7 linked regions of the Homo sapiens genome follow. The protein of the gene in region 2 purifies or fractionates together with the protein of the main gene of each other region. This does not show direct contact. Each region holds a gene or a part of one and is shown on either strand. Other genes may lie near its edges.

Evidence for each region.
Region 1: the proteins of SLC35G3 (region 2) and DEK purify together in Homo sapiens (affinity purification with mass spectrometry; one large-scale study listed by BioGRID and IntAct). This does not show direct contact.
Region 3: the proteins of SLC35G3 (region 2) and CDV3 purify together in Homo sapiens (affinity purification with mass spectrometry; one large-scale study listed by BioGRID and IntAct). This does not show direct contact.
Region 4: the proteins of SLC35G3 (region 2) and NSUN2 purify together in Homo sapiens (affinity purification with mass spectrometry; one large-scale study listed by BioGRID and IntAct). This does not show direct contact.
Region 5: the proteins of SLC35G3 (region 2) and CDK13 purify together in Homo sapiens (affinity purification with mass spectrometry; one large-scale study listed by BioGRID and IntAct). This does not show direct contact.
Region 6: the proteins of SLC35G3 (region 2) and EPB41L2 purify together in Homo sapiens (affinity purification with mass spectrometry; one large-scale study listed by BioGRID and IntAct). This does not show direct contact.
Region 7: the proteins of SLC35G3 (region 2) and CSDE1 purify together in Homo sapiens (affinity purification with mass spectrometry; one large-scale study listed by BioGRID and IntAct). This does not show direct contact.

The regions. Positions count from the first base shown.
Region 1 is NC_000006.12:18,237,031-18,240,530, reverse strand, and holds part of DEK (protein DEK), read left to right. Parts: intron 1-3,014; coding exon 3,015-3,150; intron 3,151-3,500. UniProt on the Homo sapiens protein: Involved in chromatin organization.
Region 2 is NC_000017.11:35,192,020-35,195,783, reverse strand, and holds SLC35G3 (solute carrier family 35 member G3), read left to right. Parts: upstream 1-1,390; 5' UTR 1,391-1,476; coding exon 1,477-2,493; 3' UTR 2,494-3,264; downstream 3,265-3,764.
Region 3 is NC_000003.12:133,583,686-133,587,185, reverse strand, and holds part of CDV3 (protein CDV3 homolog), read right to left. Parts: intron 3,185-3,500; coding exon 3,036-3,184; intron 624-3,035; coding exon 464-623; intron 28-463; coding exon of another isoform or gene 12-27; exon of another isoform or gene 1-11.
Region 4 is NC_000005.10:6,619,545-6,623,044, forward strand, and holds part of NSUN2 (RNA cytosine C(5)-methyltransferase NSUN2), read right to left. Parts: intron 2,557-3,500; coding exon 2,472-2,556; intron 755-2,471; coding exon 562-754; intron 1-561. UniProt on the Homo sapiens protein: RNA cytosine C(5)-methyltransferase that methylates cytosine to 5-methylcytosine (m5C) in various RNAs, such as tRNAs, mRNAs and some long non-coding RNAs (lncRNAs).
Region 5 is NC_000007.14:40,096,668-40,100,080, reverse strand, and holds the end of CDK13 (cyclin-dependent kinase 13), read right to left. Parts: 3' UTR 501-3,413; downstream 1-500. UniProt on the Homo sapiens protein: Cyclin-dependent kinase which displays CTD kinase activity and is required for RNA splicing.
Region 6 is NC_000006.12:130,864,246-130,867,745, reverse strand, and holds part of EPB41L2 (band 4.1-like protein 2), read left to right. Parts: intron 1-164; coding exon 165-287; intron 288-2,111; coding exon 2,112-2,210; intron 2,211-3,500. UniProt on the Homo sapiens protein: Required for dynein-dynactin complex and NUMA1 recruitment at the mitotic cell cortex during anaphase.
Region 7 is NC_000001.11:114,726,985-114,730,484, reverse strand, and holds part of CSDE1 (cold shock domain-containing protein E1), read left to right. Parts: intron 1-62; coding exon 63-227; intron 228-2,664; exon of another isoform or gene 2,665-2,765; intron 2,766-3,394; coding exon 3,395-3,500. UniProt on the Homo sapiens protein: RNA-binding protein involved in translationally coupled mRNA turnover.

The sequences.
Region 1 (3,500 bases), on a different chromosome or scaffold from region 2:
TTTTCATCTGTTAATGTATCTACTCCCCATAAAACCATAGGAACTATTGTTTCTTTTGTTTTGTAAATGAGACAAGGGCCCAGAGATGTACTGGGGCTGGAATTTGAAACCAGGCAGCTTGCTGCTAGAGCCTGTACTCTTTGAACTATTATGTCGTATATTTTTCTTTAGTGCTTGTGCAGTATATTTGCAGTCTTTTAGAAATTTTAATAGATGACAGGCCTGGTTGTCCGTTTAGAAAAACTGTAGAACATTATCCTTTACAGCAGATATGAAATGTAGAAAGATGTGGTTTTGTTATACAGAAGTAAGATTTTATGGAGATGGCTTGTTATTTATTATTATAAATGTTTATGCTTTGACAAACTGTCACTACTCACAATTTGCAGGTTTTAAAATGATGTCATGTTGTGTATCACATCTAAAATTTTAATGGCAAGCCTTAAAAGGCTTTGGAAGTATTTTAGTTATCTAATTCTGATTTTCTAATTTGAATGGAGATTGAGTAATTATTGATGATATTGTTTCTTTTGCTCAACCTTCAACCCTTTCAGTAATAACTTACTTTCTTGTACCTGCAAGTCCAGATTTTATTACCGTTTAACTAAAAAATGATATATAATCATGATTATTGTATTCTGTGTATTAAGTGTGCTAAAGAACTTAAGAATTTTTAGGATTCCCTTTCAGAGCCTAATATATAGTTCACATGAACTGGGTGGACACTTAATGAACCTTAAAACTTAGTTTAAGTTCGTCATAAAAAAACGACAAATCATTGATACTTGTCCCATAGCCCCACACCATCTAGAACATCTCTTAGGATTAGGAAGTAAGTTAAAATGGCCTGTAAATCGCAAAAGTCCATGGGAAATTCATGTACTTACTTTTAGAAGCATGTCAGCCCCTTGACACCTTAAAAATGTATTTTTTAGTAGCAGTTAAACTACATGCTTCCCAGCCAGTGGTATATTGTTGAGGTAGTGCAGGGTGATGATAGGCTTGTATAAATAGGTACAGTGATGGTATATTAGCAAAAAGAAAGACAAACACTAAAATCCAGCCAGGTGAGGTGGTGTGTGCCTGTAGTCCCAACTACTCAGGAGCCTGAGGTGGGAGGATTGTTTGAGTCTAGCATGGGTAACATAGCGAGACCATCTCTTTTTTTTAAAAAAAAAAAAAAAAAAAAAAAGACACTAAAATCCAATGAATAGCTTGAGGCCACTTTTGGAACAGATTGATGTGTATACTTTAATCTAAAGGATAGGTTCAACACAGTGCTTATGTCTTTAAAAACAGGTTGACTTGGCCGGGCACAGTGGCTCACGGCTGTAATCCCAGCACTTTGAGAGACCAAAGTGAGTGGATCACCTGAGGTCGGGAGTTCCTGACCAGCCTGGCCAACATGGAGAAACCCCGTCTCTACTAAAAATACAAAAGTAGCCGGGTGTGGTGGCGCATGCCTGTAATCCCAGCTACTCAAGAGGCTGAGGCAGGAGAATCACTTGAACCCGGGAGGCAGAGGTTGCGGTGAGCCGAGATCATGCCATTGCACTCCTGCTCCTGCCTGGGCAACAAGAGCGAGACTCCATCTCAAAAAAAAAAACCAGGTTGCTTTAGGATAACTCTCAGGAATCAAGAGTGTTAAACATTTGGAGAAACGTTCTGTCAAGTGATCGCAGTAGTTTTAGTGTGTAAATGGGAGAATTTAAAATATCTTGGAATGTTTAATAGGAAGCTTTTCCTTTGGGAACATTAATTAAACTAAGAATTAATGCTTTCTAATTTCACAGGCTCCACATGAGACAAAGTATGAACTCTGATTTTGTCTTTTTTTTTTTTTTTTTGAGACAGTCTCTCTCCTGGAGTGCAGTGTCATGATCTCCACTCACTGCAACCTCCATCTCCAGGGTTCAAGCAATTCTCTTGCCTCAGCCTCCTGAGTAGCTGAGACTACAGGTGCCCACCACCACACCCAGCTAATTTTTGTATTTTTAGGAGAGACAGTGTTTCACCATGTTGACCAGGATGGTCTCAGTCTCTTGATCTCATGATCCGCCCGCCTTGACCTCCCAAAGTGCTGGAATTACAGGCATGAGCCACCATGCCTGGCCTGTCATTTTAATCTATCCATATTTATGTATTTTGTTTGTGTCTAATCACCTATGGGTTAGTGTTTAAGAACACAAGTTCTGGAGTCACATCTATATTTGAATCTTGCATGTTTATTAATGTGACTGTGGACAAGGTAACCACACTGAGCCTTAGTTTCCTCATATAGTCATAAGTATTTATTGAGCAACTACTGTATACCAGAGACTATTTTAGGAGTTAGGGAAACATCAGTGAACACAAGATTCTAGGCCAGGTGTGGTGGCTCATGCCTGTAATCCCAGCACTTTGGGAGGCCAAGGCAGGCAGATCATCTGAGGTCAGGAGTTCAAGACCAGCCTGGCCAACATGGCAAAACCTCATCTCTACTAAAAATACAAAAATTAGCCGGGTGTGGTGGCGAGCACCTGTAATCCCAGCTACTAGGGAGGCAGAGACAGGAGAATTCGCTTGAACCCGGGAGGGCAGAGGTTGCAGTGAACCAAGATCGGGCCACTGCACTCCAGCCAGGGTGACGCAGCAAGACTCTGTCTCAAAAAAAAAAAAAAAAAAAAAAAAGATTCCAGTTGAAAGAGAGAGAACATAAATAAGAGAAGATAATATTATCTATATTTAGGGGTCCCCCCCAAGATTAAGTAGAGTAATGCATATGTAGTTTATCCATAGTGTTGAATAAATATGGGCAACTCTTGTGTGTGTGTGATTGTGATTTGTCATGCTTAGACTTGTGTTGGGATAAAATTGTTGTATATTAGTCATCTCTCAAAAAGAATTTTTAATTGCTGATACCAAATATATTGGTTTTCTCTAATATTATTAAGGGGCATAGGGGAAGTAGAGGGATGGGATGGGATAGCATTGAATCTCATCAATATGTGTACTTTTACTTTCTTTTGTAACAGCCACCAAAAAAGACAGCCAAAAGAGAAAAACCTAAACAGAAAGCTACTTCTAAAAGTAAAAAATCTGTGAAAAGTGCCAATGTTAAGAAAGCAGATAGCAGCACCACCAAGAAGAATCAAAACAGTTCCAAAAAAGGTATGTTAGAAATAACATTAATCAGCAACTTTAAAGATATAGCATATATTAATATGTTGTACATAGTATTTAAGTGTGTGGGAGAAACAGGTAAACTGCAGAGAACATTGCGGGGAGAAGTAATACAGGTTGAATATCCCTTATCTGAAATGCTTGGGACAGGAAGTGATTCAGATTTTGCAATATATATATATAGAGAGAGAGACAGAGAGAGAGATATCTTGGGGATGGGACCCAGTCTAAACATGAAATTCATTCATGTTTCATATTCATCTTAAATAGCCTGAAGGTAGTTTAATATTTTAACTAAATAAATTATTTATTGCAGTGGTGCCGTTACAGCTCACTGT
Region 2 (3,764 bases):
AACCTCGGCCTCCCGAGGTGCCGGGATTGCAGACGGAGTCTCATTCACTCAGTGCTCAATGTTGCCCAGGCTGGAGAGCAGTGGCGTGATCTCGGCTAGCTACAACCTCCACCTCCCAGCCGCCTGCCTTGGCCTCCCAAAGTGCCGAGATTGCAGCCTCTGCCCAGCCGCCACCCCGCCTGGGAAGTGAGGAGCGTCTCCGCCTGGCCGCCCATTGTCTGGGATGTGAGGAGCCCCTCTGCCCGGCTGCCCAGTCTGGGAAGTGAGGAGCGCCTCTTCCCGGCCGCCATCCCATCTAGGAAGTGAGGAGCGCCTCTTCCCGGCCGCCATCCCGTCTAGGAAGTGAGGAGCGTCTCTGCCCGGGGGCCCATCGTCTGAGATGTGGGGAGCGCCTCTGCCTGGCCGCGACCCCATCTGGGAGGTGAGGAGCGTCTCTGCCCGGCCGCCCCATCTGAGAAGTGAGGAGCCCCTCCGCCCCGCAGCTGCCCCATCTGAGAAGTGAGGAGCCCCTCCGCCCGGCAGCCGCCCCGTCTGAGAAGTGAGGAGCCCCTCCACCCGGCAGCCGCCCCGTCTGGGAAGTGAGGAGCTTCTCTGCCCGGCAGCCGCCCCGTCCAGGAGGGAGGTGGGGGGCAGCCCCCGCCGGGCAAGCTGCCCCGTCTGGGAGGGAGGTGGGGGGTCAGCCCCCGCCCGGCCGCTGCCCCGTCCGGGAGGTGGGGGGCACCGCTGCCCGGCCGCCCCTTCTGGGAAGTGAGGAGCCCCTCTGCCCGGCCACCACCCCGTCTGGGAGGTGTACCCAACAGCTCATTGAGAACGGGCCATGATGACGGTGGTGGTTTTGTGGAATAGAAAAGGGGGAAAGGTGGGGAAAAGATAGAGAAATCAGATTGTTGCTGTGTCTGTGTAGAAAGAAGTAGACATGGGAGACTTCATTTTGTTCTGTACTGGGAAGGGTTCTTCTGCCTTGGGATGCTGTTGATCTGTGACCTTGCCCCCAGCCCTGTGCTCTCTGGGGCATGTGCTGTGTCCACTCAGGGTTAAATGGATTAAGGGCGGTGCAAGATGTGCTTTGTTAAACAGATGCTTGAAGGCAGCATGCTCGTTAAGAGTCATCACCACTCCCTAATCTCAAGTACCCAGGGACACAAACACTGCAGAAGGCCGCAGGGTCCTCTGCCTAGGAAAACCAGAGACCTTTGTTCACTTGTTTATCTGCTGACCTTCCCTCCACTATTGTCCTATGACCCTGCCAAATCCCCCTCTGCGAGAAACACCCAAGAATGATCAATAAAAAAAAACAAAAAACAAAAAAAGAAAGAAAAGAAGCAGAGTTGGACTCAGTGGGAAAATAGGCGTGCTACCACCTCAGGAGAGTTCCAGGGAAGAATCCCACCCCCACTCCAATGAGGTCACAATGGCTGGAGCTCTGAGGGGCCCAGGCTCCCTGAGCCAGGAGGAGAGGAGAAAGTCCAAGGAAAGATGGCTGGCAGTCACCCCTATTTCAACCAGCCTGACTCCACACACCCATCGCCGCCCTCCGCTCCACCCAGCCTCCGCTGGTACCAGCGCTGCCAGCCCTCTGATGCCACCAGTGGCCTGCTGGTGGCCCTGCTGGGTGGGGGCCTGCCTGCTGGCTTCGTGGGCCCCCTTTCTCGTATGGCTTACCAGGCTTCCAACCTGCCCTCGCTGGAGCTGCTCATCTGGCGATGCCTCTTCCACCTCCCTATTGCCCTGCTACTTAAACTGCGTGGCGACCCCCTTCTGGGAACTCCTGACATCCGAAGCCGGGCCTTCTTCTGTGCCCTGCTCAACATCCTCAGCATTGGATGTGCCTACAGTGCGGTTCAGGTGGTGCCCGCTGGCAACGCTGCCACTGTTCGCAAAGGTTCTTCCACCGTCTGCTCCGCCGTCCTCACTCTCTGCCTTGAGAGCCAGGGTCTCAGTGGCTACGACTGGTGTGGACTGTTGGGCTGCATCCTAGGACTAATCATCATTGTGGGACCTGGACTCTGGACACTACAGGAGGGGACCACGGGTGTCTACACCGCCCTGGGCTATGTGGAGGCTTTCCTGGGAGGCCTGGCGCTGTCCCTGAGGCTTCTGGTCTATCGTTCTCTGCACTTTCCCCCCTGCCTCCCAACAGTGGCCTTCCTATCTGGCTTGGTGGGGCTGCTGGGCTCTGTGCCAGGCCTCTTTGTGCTGCAGGCCCCCGTGTTGCCCAGTGACCTCCTGAGTTGGAGTTGTGTGGGGGCAGTGGGGATCCTCGCCTTGGTCTCCTTCACATGTGTGGGCTATGCGGTCACCAAGGCCCACCCTGCCCTGGTGTGCGCTGTCCTACATTCCGAGGTGGTTGTGGCCCTTATACTGCAGTATTATATGCTCCATGAGACTGTGGCACCTTCTGACATCGTGGCGGCAGGGGTTGTGCTGGGCAGCATTGCCATCATTACAGCCCAGAACCTCAGCTGTGAGAGGACAGGGAGGGTGGAGGAGTGAGATAGAACTTGGGAGCCCGGGGGTTGGGAGGGACAGGGATAAATAAAGGCAAAGACTGAAGACAAACATGGGAGGAGAAGTGACTGGAAAAGAACTGGTGTGGGAGAGGGATACCTCTCAGAGTCAAGGGTGACTTGGGGACTTGGTGGAGAGGGACTACGTGGAAGACCTGGGGCCAGCCTGGGACCAAGGGATGTGGAGTCCAGGCTGGGTCCTAGAATCAGGGCATAACTAAGGGGTAAAGTCTGAGGAGCAGATCCAAAGGGCTGAGGCAGGGAGGCCGTGGGCCATGGGGAGGACTTCACTCAGCAGCAAAGAGAAGAGCATTGGGGCTGGAGTGTTCCGGCAAAGACAGAGCCAGCAGCTGCGCTGGGGGAGGGAAGCGTGCCTCCCCACCCCTCCCCTCACGGGGAAGGTTTCCTTTCCTCGTGCTTGTGCCCCCCGCTTGGGGTGGTGACGTGACATTGACATCAAACAAGGATTACAGTGAATGTGAAAAAAAAAAAAAAAGATACCTGAATAGACATTTCTATGACATTTTAAAAGCCATGAATTTATTTTGGCACAAATATTTTATCATATGCAGTCACTTCTTTGTAAATGATTTTTTGTAAAGTCATTGGATATAAAAGAGTGATTTTCCTCACCTGAGTACATGAAAAGAAAATGCTGAAATCAATGTATAAATCAAATCATCTGTACTAGCACTGTTAATCTAGAAGAAAGTGGTTGCATAGAGAAGAGTAAGAATGTAGACCAGCTTATTGAAGTAGGAAAAGAAAAAAAAAAGGAGCTTCAGAGGTAGGCTTTGCCTCTTAAAAAAATTAAAAACATAAGTCACTGTGTTGTGCTTGGGAGTTAGCAGCAAAAAAAAAAAAAAAAAATGAAGTCACTGTCTGTGAAAGGAAAAGAAAAAATGAAAAGAGTTTGCATCCATTGAAGTATGCAGAAAAAGAAAACAAGTTTTAAAATAAAATAAAATGAGTATAGTTGGGGGCTTAGCAATGGACATACAGAGTGGAGTAATAGACACCGGAGGCTCCAAAAGGTGGGCAGATGGGTGGGGGATGAGGGATGAAATCCTACCTATTGGGTACAATGTTCACTATTCTGATGATGAGGATGCTATGCAATATGCTTTACCACTACGCAATGTATCCATGCAACAAAACTGCACTTGTACTCCTAAATCCATAAAAATTTAAAATTGTCTTGGCTGAGACCTCTTTTAAAAAATAATAAAATAAAAAAATTAGAGAGAATAGTAAGAG
Region 3 (3,500 bases), on a different chromosome or scaffold from region 2:
CCAGGTAGCATTCATTTTAAGTACCTGCTGAAATAAGATTATTTTAATATTAGATTTATAAATGCCAACATCTTCTGTCTATAGTCACATTAACTGGGAATACAATTAAACAGCGCTTTTATATTTCTAGTTTCCATATTATAAGGAGCAAAAGCCACTTAATTATAAAAGAATTTTAACTACATTAAAACTTGTCATTGCTATAAAACAACATAAACCAGGGCTAAGATAAACTTTTGCAGACAGAAGACAAAGTGTCTCCAATGCTCTTTGCCCTCCCCCTTTCCTCCCTTCTGGACATATGAAGTCCCACCCTGATTCTCACCTGCCTGTCAGCTGAAGCTCAGGCTTTATTAGTTAAGGAGTAGTCTCTCCCTTGGGTGGGTATGCACATCCCCTATATCCCACTCCCTGGCCTAGGAACAGAAGTCCCAAACAAAATGCAATTAATTATAGTACTTACTTCCGGCTTTCTACATGCTTGGCAGTTGACTGCAGGGATGGGAACTGTGTATCACTGTAGATTTCTGGTGGTCCTTGTGGTGTTTTCCTTGTTGTGGTTAACCTGGCCCCAGGAGGCCTATACACACCACTAGTCATCGCTGGTTCTGGGGTTTCTGTAACTAATATTTTATAACAATTTTTAGATAAACTATTTAAATGCTCAGCATTTTAATAAGCTATTCTTGCATTCCCAATCATTTAACAATTATAGAAAAAACAATACCAGGGTCTCTGGGTCAGACCACAGAAGGGAATTCATTTCAGAAAATGTCTGAAAGTGAAAACAGGCTGGGCGTGGTGGCTCACGCCTGTAATCCCAGCACTTTGGGAGGCCGAGGTGGGTGGATCACCTGGGGTCAGGAGTTCAAGACCAGCTGGGCCAACATGATGAAACCCTGTCTCTACTAAAAATACAAAACTTAGCTGGGCATGATGGCAGGCACCTGTAATCCCAGCTACTCAGGGGGCTGAGGCAGGAGAATGGCTTGAACCTAGGAGGCAGAGGTTGCAGTGAGCCGATATTGAGCCACTGCACTCCAGCCTGGGCAACAGAAGGAGACTCCGGCTCTCAAAAAAGAAAAAAGAAAAGTGAAAACATTGTATTTTTCTAGGGTAGTATTCTAACTCCTCCTCCACGTACAACTTTAGTAATCTACGTAAATGATGAGTTCCACAAGCCAAATTACTGGAAGTAGAAAAGGAATCTGCTGGGCTTGGATGACTGGTCTCATCAGGGACTGCCTCTCAGAATAGGACTTTAGTCCTGTTTCCCTACCAGTAAATATGAATTACTTCTTTACCTGATTGGTGGACTGATTAAGATGCCATATGTAAAGAATTTTTTAATGAAATGCCAGTGTGGTTATTTTTTAAGATTCTAGCCAGGGCTGGGTGCAGTGGCTCAAGCCTGTAATCCTAGCACTTCGGGAAGCCCGAGGCAGGCAGATCACCTGAGGTCAGCAGTTCAAAACCAGCCTGGCCAAAATGGTGAAACCCCGTCTCTACTAAAAATACAAAGATGTAGCGGGGCATGGTGGTGCACGCCTGTAATCCCAGCTACTTGGGAGGCTGAGGCAGGAGAATAGCTTGAACCCGGGAGGCGGAGGTTGCAGTGACCCAAGATTGTGCCACTGCACTCCAGCCTGGGCAAGAGAGTGAGACTTTGTCTTAAAAAAAAAAAAGAAAAAGAAAAAAAGATTCTAGCCAGGCACAATGGCTCACGCCTGTAATCCCAGCACTTTGGGAGGCCGAGGCGGGCAGATCACTTGAAGTCAGGAGCCAGACTCTGTCTCAAACAAAACAAACAAAACAAAAAGATTCTAAAGATGATTTAAAAACATAAGACCGGGTGTGGTGACTCACACCTGCAATCCCAGCACTTTGGGAAGCTAAGGTGGGAGGATTGCTTGAACCCAGGAGTTGAAGACTAGCCTGGGCAACATAGTTAAGATCTCATCTCTACAATAAAATAAACAGGTGGCATGCCCCGGTAGTCTACTTGGAAGGCTGGGGTGGGAGGATCACTTGAGCCCAAGCAGTTGAGGGGCTGCAATGAGCCATGATTGCATGACTGCTCTCCAGCCTGGGCCAGAGTGAAACCCTGTCTCTAAAAAATATAAAAATAAAAATTTAACATAGAGTAGTTATCTGTGATTTCTGCATAACAAGATTTGGAGTGATATGTTATTCTTTATAACATTCTAAATAAAATAATGAGTATACACTTCTTTAAAGTAGTGCTCTTAAACTTTCATTATTGCCCTAAGGAGACCTTTCAGACATCTGTTTCCTAACTGCCCCCCACTCCATGAAATTTTAATACTGCGATATACTATACATCTGTTTATGCATTCTAGTCTTTTCGTGGGCCACAAATGACTGTTAAGGTATAAGATTCCTTCATTCCATAAGAAGCAACTTTTACCACCTTGAGAATGATAAAATTGGCCCTGCTGAGAATTCATGCTTCAAAGAACAGGAAAGTTAAATAGGGAATGAAAAAGACAAAGCACAAGTGAAAGACAAGGGCCCCTTGTCTTTCTGTCTTTACTCAGCTGTCAAAAATATTTTAAATGATAAAAGCTTTAGGAATTTTCTCTCTCATGAAAACTTTTGGAGTTAAACCCAACCCTAGGGTAGTTACCACTAAAAATCCTAAATGAAGCTGACCTTGGATTCTAGTAAATTAAAGTCTTTTCCTTACCTTTTCCTCCATTAGCAAGTAGTTAATATTTAACGAGAATATTAGAAGAAATGCTCAATTCCAATAAATGAAACTGGAATCGACTAGTCTATATCTATATAAATTTTACAGCAACATACAGGACAAAAGCATGTCTTTTAACTTCCAGATTCCTTTTATTTAGGATTTTAAAGTCTTTAACAAGATATATACACATCCCACTCTACCAGGAATGGAAAGGAGCCTCTCCTCCTCACCCTACCACAATCATGCACTTAGTTGAAAGTGGACCATATATAAAATCATATATAAATTAGACATCTTTCTGAAACTGAAATAGTAAAATTACCAATTACTGGAGCAGGAGGTGCTTGTACTGGAGCTGTTTTATTCCAGGGACCTGAAGATTTTTCCATACCTCCACCACCACCTCCACCTTCTTCCCAGTTATCACCTGGATCTTGTCTCTTTTCATTATCGTCTTCTTCCTTTTCACTGCTGGAAAAGCAAAGATGTAAATTCATTAAGGAATCACCAAGAAAATTTTCAGTCCAAATCGTTAGTTTTATCCATGATTATCTGTACGACCCTGAAGAAGTCAATCTCTTTCGAGACTGAACGTCTTATTTAAAAAGTGAGGCCAGGTACAGTGGCTCACACCTGTAATCCCAGGACTTTGGGAGGCCAAGATGGGTGCACCACCTGAGGTCAGGTGTTCAAGACCAGGCTGGGCAACATGGCGAAACCCATCTGTACTAAAAATACAAAAATGAGCCAGGCATGGGGGCACACACCTACAATGCCAGCTACTGGG
Region 4 (3,500 bases), on a different chromosome or scaffold from region 2:
AGTATTATTTTATATCTAAACTCTAAATATCTAAAATGTTGATGTATTATCTCAAGAAAGGTATAAAAACACAAGCAAAATGAATTTCTTAAGGGCTTGAACTCCGAAATTTCTTTCATTCAACTAAATAACATAAAATCCAATGTGATTACGTATTATTTTATGACAAAGTTTTTTATATACTGTACTCACTGGAAGAACTAATACAAAATAGTTGGGGTGCACAAATTGTTCCAAGCAATAACATCCTAAAACACACCACAATAAGAGTCTACGATTCTATTTTCCTCTTACGTATTTTCTCTGTTTTGTTTTGTTTTCTCTTTATCTTTCTGCAGGCTATTGCAACCACCCCTTTCTGTTCTTTATCCAGCATCTGCTGTGCTGCTTCTCATTAAGACGTATCTACGTGTCCATCTTTTGGTTTAGGCTCACGCTATCTTTCTCCGCACCCCAAGACTTATGTACAATTGTGTCATATTCATGCACAACTTCATTTTAGTCTCTATTTGACTTGATTTCTTTAGTGGATTTGGGCTTTTTGGCCAATAAGATAAATACCTGCAAGGGACATCACATAAAATTCGATCATAGAAGAGGATCTCTTTCCTGCCGTCCACATCTATCTGGAGCCTGGGTATGCTGGAGGCATCATGGTTGACCACCATGATGCAGGGGCTGCTCAGCCTCTTGGCTTGATGGACGAGCAGGTAGCAGCGCTTGTTGTCCACATCATTCGCAATAACAAATCCCTCTGAAGGCACAGAATTGCAGTGTCAGGTGAAATGGAGCCTAAGTGGAATCACATCCTGAAATATGCGACCTCCAAAGGTCAGCCAGTGAGAAGCAGCAATCCACCAAACTTAAGACCCACAGTCAAGGTTTTCCAGAATTACGTTAAGTGGTTCAAAAAAAGGAACCAGGTGGCTCTGGATGGATTTTATGGACACTCGAATTTTGAAAGCCTCAAAAGTCATCTATTCAACAATTATTCACTTTGTGCCAATTACCATGCCAAAAATGTCTTTTCTGTTATTAGTAACGATTAACTACAAAAAAAAAAGATGAGGAGAAAGGTGTAGAAACAACAAAATCACCTTACAAATGTTTCAAAATCCTGAACACAAGCCGGGACCCTGCTCTGACTGTGAGTCAGGCTCCTAGGGTGGGGCCCCAAGCACCTGAACACGGAAGCTCTTCCCGGGAGGCTCTGCAGGCTGGGAAGTCTACTGGGTGTACCTCTGCTCATCTCTGGTTCTTCTCACACCCCCAGCAAAAAGGCAAATATACCAACAACATGTATGATCAAAGCCACTCTTCACAACAGTATGAAATGCAAAACATCCACAATACAAAAAGGAGAACCTGCTGCTACTGGGACGCCAAGGCTCTTTACTGCCAATGTGGAGAAAACAACTAAAAACAGGGAAAAGTGAAGCAGGCTTTTTAGCCAAGGCATTATCTTTAAACAATGTAAAAAAGAGGATTTCAAAAAACAGACCTAACAAATATGCCTATTAAAACAGAACTAGAGAAGTTTGCCTGAACAAAGATAGGACGAGATGAAAGCTGACTCTAAAACATCACGATGGGTATTTGTTTCCACTTAAGAGAAAGGGGCGTGGTGTCACTATAACAGCTAACATTTCCTGAGCACCTCGCAAGCTACATACTGATTCGTCCCATTTCACATGGGATGTCTAACACTGTAAGTAACTTGCCGATTAGGATTTGAACCCAGGGAGTCTGATGGTAGCTTTTAACTACACACTACTACCCTTCATGTAAGGCAGTAAGTAATAATAATAATAATAATAGTAATAATAATGAACAAAGGTGGGGGAAAGGGGAAATTGTTACTAAAAATTCAAACAGTGAAATCTATCTTCTGTAAGTAGGCTTGATAAAGAAACACCATCTGCAGCCGGGCGTGGTGGCTCACACCTGTAATCCCAGCACTTTGGGAGGCCAAGGCGGGCGGATCACGAGGTCAGGAGATCGAGACCATCCTGGCTAACATGGTGAAACCCCGTCTCTACTAAAAATACAAAAAATTACCCGGGCATGGTGGCGGGCACCTGTAGTCCCAGCTACTCGAGAGGCTGAGGCAGGAGAATGGCGTGAACCCAGGAGGTGGAACTTGCAGTGAGCCAACATCACGCCACTGCACTCCAGCCTGGGCAACAGAGTGAGACTCCATCTCAAAAAAAAAAAAAAGAAATGCCATTCGTTTTTATAGAAAACACACATAATTCTAAAATAAAGCTCCCCCATGGTATGAGTGTGTTTGTTTGAGTACTACTGACGGTGGTAGGCAAGATGTCCAGTTCTACTTCCGGTAGACGGAAAACCCAACTGCTTGTCATAGGAGACTTTAGAGCCAAATTAGCAGGCAAAGTTAGAGTCTTTTCCTTGTCTACAATCTGCCAAAGTGGCATTCCTACCATTTTGAACACAAGTCCAATGCATACCTGGAAAGGGGACATTCATGTCGGCATGTAGCATTTCAATTAACTGTGTGGTCTTTGAGCCAGGTGCTGCACACATATCTAAGATCTATTAACAAAGCAAGAAACTGTTTCATGTTTTTAAAAAACCAAATATTCTACATTTAATTTAAAGCAATTCTAGTTTTTCAATTTCTAGTCCAAGATCTAAATATACTTCTTTACAGAGTCTATAGCATGACATAATTTACTTTTAGGGATTCTACACTGCCCCAAAATCACAGAATGATATAGGTACAGTCTCCAAAGAGGATGGGAGGAGAATGAAACTGTAAGCCAGAGAGACTAAATATAGAGATGAACAAGTAAGAATCATGAAAACATAATGCTAAGGAACAGAGCTACCTAGACTCAAATCTCAGCTCAGCCAGTTAACAGCTCCGTAACCTCAGTTCAAGTACTTCTCCTTGCTTCCTTTTCCTCATCTGGAAAAATGGAGATGGTGACAGTATCTGCCCTTAGAGGGTTGTGTGAATGATAAAGCCAACTAATTCACCTAAAAAACACAGAGCAAGGCCAGGCACAGTGGCTCACACCTGTAATCCCAGCACTTTGGAAGGCCAAGGCAGGCGGATCGCCTGAGGTCGGGAGTTCGAGACCAGCCTGACCAACATGGAGAAACCCCGTCTCTACTAAAAATACAAAATTAGCAGGGTGTGGTGGTGCGCACCTGTAATCCCGGCTACTTGGGAGACTGAGGCAGGAGAATTGCCTGAACTCAGGAGGCGGAGGTTGCAGTGAGCCAAGATCGCGCCACTGCACTCCAGCCTGGACAACAAGAGTGAAACTCCATCTCAAAAAAAAAAAAAAGAAAAGAAAAAAGAGCACAGAGTAATGCTTGCCATACAATGAGCTCTCAATACATGTTCACTATCATTTTCAACCTAATTTAGCCAATCACCATCACTGAAGACAATCCATATGGTAAACAAATCAGTAAAACTAAAGGGGAGAAAATTTTCTAAACCATAAAAATTAAGTAGGACAAAAAAG
Region 5 (3,413 bases), on a different chromosome or scaffold from region 2:
AAAAAATTAGCCAGGCATGGTGGTGCATACTTGTAGTCCCAGCTACTTGGAAGGCTGAGGCAGGAGGATCACTCGAGCCTAGGAGTTCAAGGCTGCAGTGAGCCATGATGTCGACACTGCATTCCAGACTGGGGGAAAGAGGATAGAATTTAACTGACTGATACCAAGAGATGTTCACAACATATTATTAAATGAAAAAATTCAAATTACAAAGCTATGGGCAGTATGATCCCATTGTTTTAAGAAAAAAAAAAACAAGATATGCATTCAAATACATCCATCAAAGGCAAAATATTATGTGGTTATCTGGGGGTGTTCTTCTCTGTGTTCCTATTTCCAAATATGTACTAATTATAAAAAGAAAAAAAAAGATTCCACATCTTAACCTTTGTCAAAAAAACGGCACAGTGGATTACAAGTGGTCATCTTTATCAGATAAGATTACTTCAAAAAGTCTGTTCTGGATAGAAGCAAAAAGCAAACAAGGCTGAAAAATGGCCTGGGAGTGTTACGGCAATTTATTTACAGACTATTGAATACGGCCTTAAAAAAATGGTAAAAAACAAATGGCTTATATTAATACATTAGATGTTAACAGTTACAAGACTTAACTTTTAAACGTTCTTGCAAGAGAGTACAACACTTTTAAACAAATTAACTGGGAAAAAACTTAGAAGAGTGATTCTGTATTCACTATAGAGCCTCATTTGAATACAATTAGAAAATTCATTTTTAATTGCACATTTGACAGGCTGAAATGAGTTAAGACCTGCAGACTCTGTTAGTCCATAAAATTAAAAGGATAAGTTCTTCCCTTTACAATAAAAATTTTCTATTTTCCCTGTCTTCAAATGGATCCCATGACAGCTTATTATTAATAGCTTTTATTTTTAAGTAGAAACATTTAAGAAATTATCTGGAGAAGCCTTTGGTAAATGGCAAACTATTGCTCCCCTTAAAAAACCACTTGAAATTACAAAACCCTGAAAGTATTTTTTTGTTGTTTTTTTTTTTAAAGTTCCAAATCAATAGGTTTTATTGCATAAAACCTTGAAAGAACTTAAAAGCAAATTATGTTTGCAAGCCTACTGATAACCAATCTTCTTTCAACAAATGAAAAATACATACAGGACTTGCCTTTTCAAAGATTATCCATATATGAAACAAACAGCCCCTTCAGGCTCCTAAATTTTGAAGATGTTTTTATTTTTCTATTTTTTCTAAATAAAAATTGTTTTTTAAGCAGACTTTTTAAAGCCACTTGTGTTAAACCATTAGTCCAATAGTCTAATTATTTTACCGTATCACTGGTCAAGTTATCTTGAAGCAATTTCCCTATTAAAAAGTTAAGTATTTACTGCAGAATTTAGGTATGGCTTAGAGGAACAAGCACAGGCAATCCAGCTGCCAAAGTTTCTGGCAATCCCTCTTTCTAAGCCTTATTTTTCTTAGTTGTAAAGTAAGAAGACCGACTGGATAATTTTAGGTTACTGGGACATCTCGTTCAGACTTTTAAAACATCAAAAGGCAGACTGGGCCAAAAAAAAAAAAAAAATTGAAAGGATATTATATCCCAGGGAATTAGCTATCTATATTCAAAACATATATTTCAGCTTTGTTTTTTTTACCTATGTCCTACAAGAAGGATTCACCTTTTTGGAAAAGAAAGCAAGTCCCCTTCCCCTAAAAAAAGAAAAAATAAAAATAAAAAAGGAAAACAAAAAGCCCTAGGATGAAAAATCATCCCAAATTGGATTAAGCTCAAAGAGCAAAACCTTAACTCAGAAGTACCAGATTTTAAGCATTTATGTATTCACTTTTCATTTTTCTCAAGAAGTCTTGATATTTCTTACAAATAGGCCATTGCAAACTGACCAGATTCAACTTAAAATTTTATCACTTTTAAGTGATATCAAACAGCTATTCCAGTTGTTTGATTTCTCTCCATAACCATCTCTATCCAAATTTCAATTTAAAATTTCAAAAAGATACTCAAATTTTCATGCCCTACATTCACTTAAGTGCAATTTAGATACAGCTGAGGGTAGCAAATACCACTAACTTCTCCAGACATTTAAAAAAATCTTGCTCACTGTCAGCACACTGAAAGTATGATTTAACACTGTTGACGGTTATTGATGTACCCCAAGGACTAGATTACTACCTGGCATGTTGTAGGCACTGACTATGTATTTGCTGACAGAATAAAGCTCTGAATCACAGCTAGAATTATTACCTTATTTCACATTCCACAAATGACAACTCCTTAAAATTGGCATTTTAAGGTTTCACAAATGACTTGCAACTCTCCAACAAATAATGAAGACGTAGGAAACATACTGAGTTGCATGCAGAAAAACCTGCTGTGTCAGTAAATACAAAAGGGAATTTCACGTGGGAGAAGATAAATACTTTCTTCTTTTGGCAGGTCAAATCTTTTATATTTTTGTCTTCTTAACTTGCAGTCTGACTTACCTGCTTTTTTCCAAAAAATTTAAGCAATATTTTGTGTTCTTTAGATTTCACTCAAATTTTCAGCGATGACTGCTGTTATAACCTACAGAACTAGTGATTTCCCAACTTTGTTCTATTAATCCAAATTCACTGAATTAAAATATTAAATGCTATGAAGGGAAGCATTAAAATTTTTTACTATCATATTTCATCAATTATAAGACATATTTTCATATAATATGTCTGAATCTGGGATGCAGCTTACAATTGATGACGTCTTAGCATTGTATTGTGGCTTAATTGGCAACATTTTTTCTTCTAAGTGACATATAAAAGACTAGTATGTCTCACAGTAGTGCTGTGTAAGGATAATATTAGAAGTTCTAGTTCAAATTTTCAATGTCAAAGCAACAATTTCCCTGTCCTCCCAGCCACTCTCCCAACATAAATATATAACTGAAATGTTTGATTAGAAAAACTATCCAAACACAGTTCAATTTTATATAAAATATTTAATTTTTAAAACACAGGCTATTCATGTCACATAAATATCTTCAACTGTAGGTTAGCTGCTTATGGTCAGCAGAATTATCAAGTGTGACTATTAAGAATAACTTAGATACTGTCACTTATAGGAAAGTCTAAAGCTCTAAGACTCACCATATTAAAATTTCAGATACTTGAATACTGTTGCTATTTTGCTAATTTCAAAATATTTCTTCATTTCCTGCAATGTAGTTTATAAGTTGTTAGTAATCAATATTCAAATAAAAGCAACATATTTTTTTCTTCCATTCATTTCTTTCTCCCAACAAAAAGAGTCCATCAAAAAATAAAATGGTCAACTGATATCAACTTATTTTATAGTAGTAAAATGGTAAATTATCCTCTTTAAAATAATTTTACTCTTATCAAACTACAGGACTTCCCACATACTGTTTTGAAATGAAGGTTCATAA
Region 6 (3,500 bases), on a different chromosome or scaffold from region 2:
TCTTTTATTTCTTTTGTTTGTTTTAGGTTGTTTGCTTTTACTCTTTTCTTTTGTGCATGAGTGTGTGTTTGGATATGTTTCTTACTATTATTTGTGAAGGTTCCATTAAACACTTTTACTTTATTACCTCTAGAATTTATTTTTCCCTTCCTTTTCCACCTCAGCCACCAGTGGTAAAAACAGAGATGGTAACAATTTCTGATGCCTCACAAAGGACAGAAATCTCCACCAAGGAAGTCCCCATTGTCCAAACTGAGACCAAAACCATCACATATGAGTCTCCACAGGTACAAAAGCTCTAGACTTGGACTGTTCGAGCTCTTTTTTCCCTTAGTGTATCTATGTTTTCATTCTTTCTTCTCTTAGTTTACATGTTTCTGGCTTTGATGTAGCTTTTTGTATCTGCACTTTGTAAGTGTACTTCAACAACATAATTTGCTATGTTCTCTTAGATTGAGACAGAGAGCTGCAATTAAATTGGTAACCCAGTAATTATAGGGGAACTGTACATATGATTATTTAGGACAGACAGTATCAATCTTGTTCATATGATTGAAAGCCATTTCTGAGTTGACATATCTAAGAATGTTTGTGTACACTTAGGAAACAAATTGTCTTGCAAAGTTTATCTGATATAATTCATCGATTAATAATAATCCGATCTAATTGTGGATGTGATTTAGGCTTCTTTCCCTCTCTAACTCCGTGAAGATTGACCCAATCAACTCATTCTTGCTTGTAATAACACACATACACACACACACACACACAAACACACACAGGCACACACACCTGTGCTTCTCCTTCGTGTGGAATTATTTTCTAAAGACCTATGTAGTCATTCATATGTGAATGGTGATACCATGTGTCTAAATAATTATCAGATTTGTGTGTTTGATTTTAGGTTTTCACACATTGGTTCTGTAAAGATTTGGAATAAGCATTAAGATGTTTAACCTTAAGAATAACAAAAAAAGATAAAGCATTCATGATTTCAAAATAGAATATAAAATAAATATTTTCTCCACTTAGAAGATGAACCTTCTGTGGTAGAATTGTATCATGGTGGAGGATGTCAGGTTATTGACCTCTCAGAATATTTTTTAAAAGGTTTAATGCATGCATGTGTGAAACACATCTGAAAATTATTTTGGATATGGCATCCTTGTGTGTGCCTTGATCCCACATAAGCACAAATAGGTTTCTTATGAACAGCTTGGCGGGGGAGCATTAGTGATGTGTCTGTGCTGTGATAAGTTGCCAGAATGAAGACATACAGGTGCATGACCCAAGTTTGAAAGAGATTTCCTCTTACAGTCAGAAAGGCTCTGGACCGTCCAGTTATTTCCTCGTGTCAGTGTCAGGAAACAGAGGGCAAATATGTTTCGTGATCTTAACATAAACTGTTAGGCTATTAATTTGCTTCATTGATTCCCCTTGGAAACTCTAGAATCTTCTGCATCTTTCAATATCAAAGCAAACAAGTTAAAATCTATTTTAACATATGTATGGGATTTATATATATGTAGGAGCACATGCGTATGTGCAGTATTGAAATATATGTGCCCGTATATATGCTCACAACATGCAAACTATTACAGGAACAATGTAGTTGATGAAAACAATCGCTAGAGGTAAGCAGATAACCAAATCATGCAGATTCAGTTTGTCCTGGTCAGGTTCTGTTGCTTGGTAATTTGATAAAATGTTTATCTATTTTTACCCACCTGTGCTTAAAAAACAACAAACTCAGCGCTTCTGGTCACTGTGGAAACTTCTCTGCCTGGCTCTCTAGTTTCATTTTCTAGCTTGTGCAAAAGTCCTTCAGACAAATTCTGTCATAATTCCCTTGTAGCTTTCAGTCCCACCTACTATGTCCATTCTCCTCTCTTTTCTCCACTCACACAGTTGAGTTTGCTTCTCCATGTGCACCTAGCCTTTTGCCTCTACTCGGTTTCAAATACCAGCCGCTCTCCTGGATGGTAATTACTACTGCAAACACGCAAACCACATGGATTTTAAAAGATGCATATTCGATGGGGCGGGGATCTTCTCTGACAACATAACAGAAGTTAAGCATTACTTTGTATTTTTCCCCCAACTATCCAAAGATTGATGGCGGGGCTGGTGGTGATTCGGGCACGTTACTGACCGCACAAACCATCACATCTGAGTCCGTGTCAACAACGACAACCACACACATCACCAAGGTAAAGCAATGCAGGGGATCATATGGAGAGGATGGTACATTACAGACAGAATCTTTTCTGAATTGTTTCTCTCTTCCTGTACACACTTCCAAGTAAGATACAGACAGTGCCAGCGGAATCAAAATGCCTTGGTTTAAAGTATCCAAGAAATTAGGCTCCATTGACAAATGCATTCAAGCCAAATTGCAATTTTGTGAAGTACAAGGGGGTAAAAATATGTTACGAATAGCTATATGTAAGATAGCTACAAAACCATAAATAATTTAATAAAATTTATAATTTATAAAAACAAACTTGTGCTTCTACTTTTATTAAACCAGCCCTCCTGACTAAAGCGAATGAATGAAGGCCATCATTCAGAATTTTCAGCAAGTTGTTCAAATAATGTAGAATTTCCCTCATTTAAGATCGCTAGTATACTGATTTGGGGCATTCCCCTGTTCCTCCCTGCATAATTCTCTAAATGTTTAGCACTGGGTAACCAGTCATCCCTGGATCAGCAGCATCAGCTTCACCCGGGGCATTGTTAGAAGTATAAATAGCGTGGCCCCACTCCAGTCCTCCTGAAACCTTAGAATTGTCTTAAGAAGCTTCCAGTGATTCTGATGCATGCTGAAGTCATCAGCTTTCTAACTCCAGCCTTATTTTCCACTATTTCCTTCTTCTGTTTTTTACTTTGGATAAGTGTCTAAAGGTCTTAAAGGTGTCCCTTGTGCCCTTCCCAACCCATGTTTCAACAACAATTTAAAAAACAGCAAAAGTAATTTGTAAATTTAAAAATGCCGCATAAATGCAAGGTACTGTTGGTGCTCATTTTAAAGCATATCCAGTTATTAAGCATAGTGATAAGCCTGGTTTGTTATGGTAAAATGCTGTCACTTGTGACTGAGAGTGTACATTTATCAGAGTTGTAAATGTTGGATGTGCGCTTTCCCAGGACCGTGTGGTATTTGCTTATTGACTGTTTAGAAGGTCACAGCCAGATGATCTCCTCAGCCTCATCCAGTGTGCCCCAGGCACTCGCAGCTTGTACGGAGCCCATAACGCTGTGAGGCAGTTCCCCCAGGAGCTCCCTCCTCCAGCCCCGCTCGCAGCCTTTGTCTAGCCATGCGCCATGTCTACGTGTATGACTACTTACGCAGGGTGTCATCAAATCAAACATTCAACAAAAATCTCATCCATCTTCCGTATCTGAAACCAAAGCAAATCCTTTTTAAAATTATTGCACTAAATGCAATAAACAAAATCAGCAAATAAATTTGTATGCTCAGAATCCATCAGTCAAAACCA
Region 7 (3,500 bases), on a different chromosome or scaffold from region 2:
GGGAGGTGTTTCTTGATGCTTTCTTTTTCAATTGAAAGTTAATTTTGTTTTATCATTTTTAGGATATGCTCTCTGCTCAAAGAAATCATGCTATTAGGATTAAAAAACTTCCCAAGGGCACGGTTTCATTTCATTCCCATTCAGATCACCGTTTTCTGGGCACGGTAGAAAAAGAAGCCACTTTTTCCAATCCTAAAACCACTAGCCCAAATAAAGGCAAAGAGAAGGTAGGTTTTGCATAATCCAAATGATTTTTGTAGCTGTTTATTTCTCTTCTGCTTTAACAGCACATAGTAATAGAGTACATATAATCAGCGGAAGTTTGTCTCTTTCAGAATTTCTGTCATATTAACAGTGAACTAAACAAAGTAAGGTTTCTTAACCTTGGGATTATTGACATTTTGGGATGAATGATTCTTTACTGTGGGGGATGGGATGTTTAGCAGCATTTCTGGCCTCTACCCACTGGAAGTTAGTATTCTGACCCCTTTTCCCTGCCTCCCATTGTGACAGCCAAAAATGTGTCCAGACATTGCCAAATGTCCCCTGGGAGGCAAACTCATTCCAAGTAGAGAACTAGTTATATAAAATGATAGTACTGTCTTCCAGGCAATTTAAAACTTTCAAAGTTGGGTGTATCCTCAGTTCACACATTTAAATTTCATTTATTGAAAAATCCACTAAATAGGAAATAGAAAGATGTCTGAGATGAATTCTCCTTTCAAGTTAATAACAAATTGAGAGTTTTATAGAAACAAGTAATTCATATAGAATATAAAATATTGCTATTGAAGGTCAGCGATAGTGCTCTGGTGAAAATTAACTGGTAGGGTATGTGATGGTTTTACTAACAGATGGAGACAGGAAAGAGCATTCTTCACAGAGTAAAAGTATAGATGAGAAAAATTCAGGGTTTCTTTAGGAAGCAATGAGTAACTAGTCCGACAGGAATTTTTTTTTTTTTTTTTTTGGTTTTGTGTGTGGGTTTTTGTTGGTGAGGGAGGTTAGGAGAAATAAGGATGAAAAATCAGGATCCAGCTAGACTGGGAGGGTGTTGATTGCTGCTCTAAAGAATTTAGACCTTATTGTCAGGTGCGGTGGCTCACACCTGTAAACCCAGCACTTTGGGAGGCTGAGGCGGGCGGATCACGAGGTCAGGAGATTGAGACCATCCTGGCTAACATGGTGAAACCCCATCTCTACTAAAAATACAAAAAAATTAGCCGGGCATAGTAGTGGGCACCTGTAATCCCAGCTACTCGGGAGGCTGAGGCAGGAGAATGGCGTGAACCCAGGAGGCAGAGCTTTTAGTGAGCTGAGATGGCGCCATTGCACTCCATCCTGGGCGACTGAGTGAGACTCCGTCTCCAAAAAAAAAATTTAGACCTTGTTCTGTACTTCAAGGAAAAGATTTCTTTTGGATAATGACATCAGGTATGTGCTTTGGGAGAGTAATGGCAGCAATATGAAGCCTAGATGGGATGGAGAAAGACAAAAGATGAAAAGGATTACTATGAAATTACTTGGATAGTTAAGGTAGTCCTTGAACTAGGCACACAGATAGTGACTATAGACAAGTGAAGGTACATGAGAGATACTGGAAAGTCATGTTATAATTTAATAATTGCTATTAGCCAGAAAGAGCAAGGCTAGTATCTTGCTTATCACTTACTGTAGCTTGGGAAATTATTTCACCTCTGAGCTTCAGTTTTTAAATTTCAAAAATGATTGTGTAATAGTTTAAAAAGCCCTCGAAGTACCTAGCTCATAATAGGAATTTCGCATGTGACAGATGATACTGTTAACAAAAATAAAAATACACTTCAGTTGGGCTTATTTTTAATAACTTTTAATTCTTGGAATGCTCTGCTTCCCAAATGTGTCTGGCAAAACTGGCTTGATGAAGAGAGCCTTTGTGTGAGACTTTCCCTGCCATTTTTTGTTTTTTTTTCTTTCTTAGTCCAACAGTACCCTAGTAAATCCTCTGTCATCATGCTTCTTACAGTATATAACATTTACCTGTTAATGAATCTGTCTCTGCTGCACTGGACTCCCTCAGGGCAGGGATTCTCCTATCTCTATTTAATATATTTGATGTATAGTATATTGTCAGCTGTTGATGTTGAAGTTGGTGAGTTAAGAGCAAAAGGTGAACAGTAAGCTTTTGAGTTTGGTTGTGGAAAAGTTGATGACATTGGAGTCAGACCTGAGTTCACTGACATTGTTCTTAACCAAACTCAAATCCTCTGGATTATTTTGCGCTGGGTTTTGTAACCTTGGTAAGGTTTACTTAATTCCTCAGATTTCCCCAATTTGTAAAATGAGGGAAAAGAGAAACTATGGAGATGATTTTGTACAAGATTAATTTGATAATACATAATACCTGGTAATGTTGTAAGTGTTCAATAAATTATTATATAGCAGTTATGGAAGGAATGTGATTGGTAGAAGAGGAAAATGAATTGGTTTTGAATATATCGTAGTTTGTAATGAGGACTGGAGTTTAGGAAGGAAGTCAGGGCTAGAGTAGGGACATGGGCATTATCTTCATAGAAATGTTGAAACCATAAAATCAGTATAATTTATGTAGTTGCTGTACACTGTCATTACTTAACGGTGTGATTCAATACGACACACCTGAACTTTCTTAGACTTTTATTTTTTTAGTCAAGTGCAGTAGTGAGAAGGGGGGAAAGAGGAGAACAAGGAAGTTCGATCTGTAACTGACTGAACAATCGAGATAACCCACTACCTTCAGACCAGCCCTTAGATTTTTTAAGAGTTAATCATTCTTACACGTACGATGACTGAAATGTTGTTTCTCCTTGAAGTCTGGTATTAAAAAAAATTGTTGAAATACTAGTATGTCATAATTTTTAATCATCTACTTTATGTCAAGTACTTGAACTGTGCTAGATCATACACCAAATTATCCTGCATTGTTAAGTATATTGATTGACATTATATATTAAATACTGTGCAAGGTGCTGTGTGCTACTAAAAGAGGATACTTCAGCAGCTTCTTTAGGAAATACTAAAGCTTCTTGCCCTTATAGAATTTCCACTTCCTTGGAAGTAACATGCCCAGTTTAATTTCTGATTGGCTATGAGGAGCGCAGGTGTATTAAACATTTTCAGTAAGCTTTTTTCTCCTCAATAGCAAAAATTAGATTCTTAAGATTGAAAGACCAATTAAAAATTACAGCAGACTGAGCTAGGCTTAAGGCAAGACTACCTTTTATTCATATGAATAATCTTTTAGAAAATGCTGGAATAAGACATTTTTACAGCTGTACCAATCCTTTGGCACAAGAATATGTAAGAACTATAGTTGTTTTTATTGGTTTTTGTTCTTGAGATTGTTTTCATTCTGTTTTTGACTGTATCTCTTTAGGAGGCTGAGGATGGCATTATTGCTTATGATGACTGTGGGGTGAAACTGACTATTGCTTTTCAAGCCAAGGATGTGGAAGGATCTACTTCTCCTCAAATAGGAGATA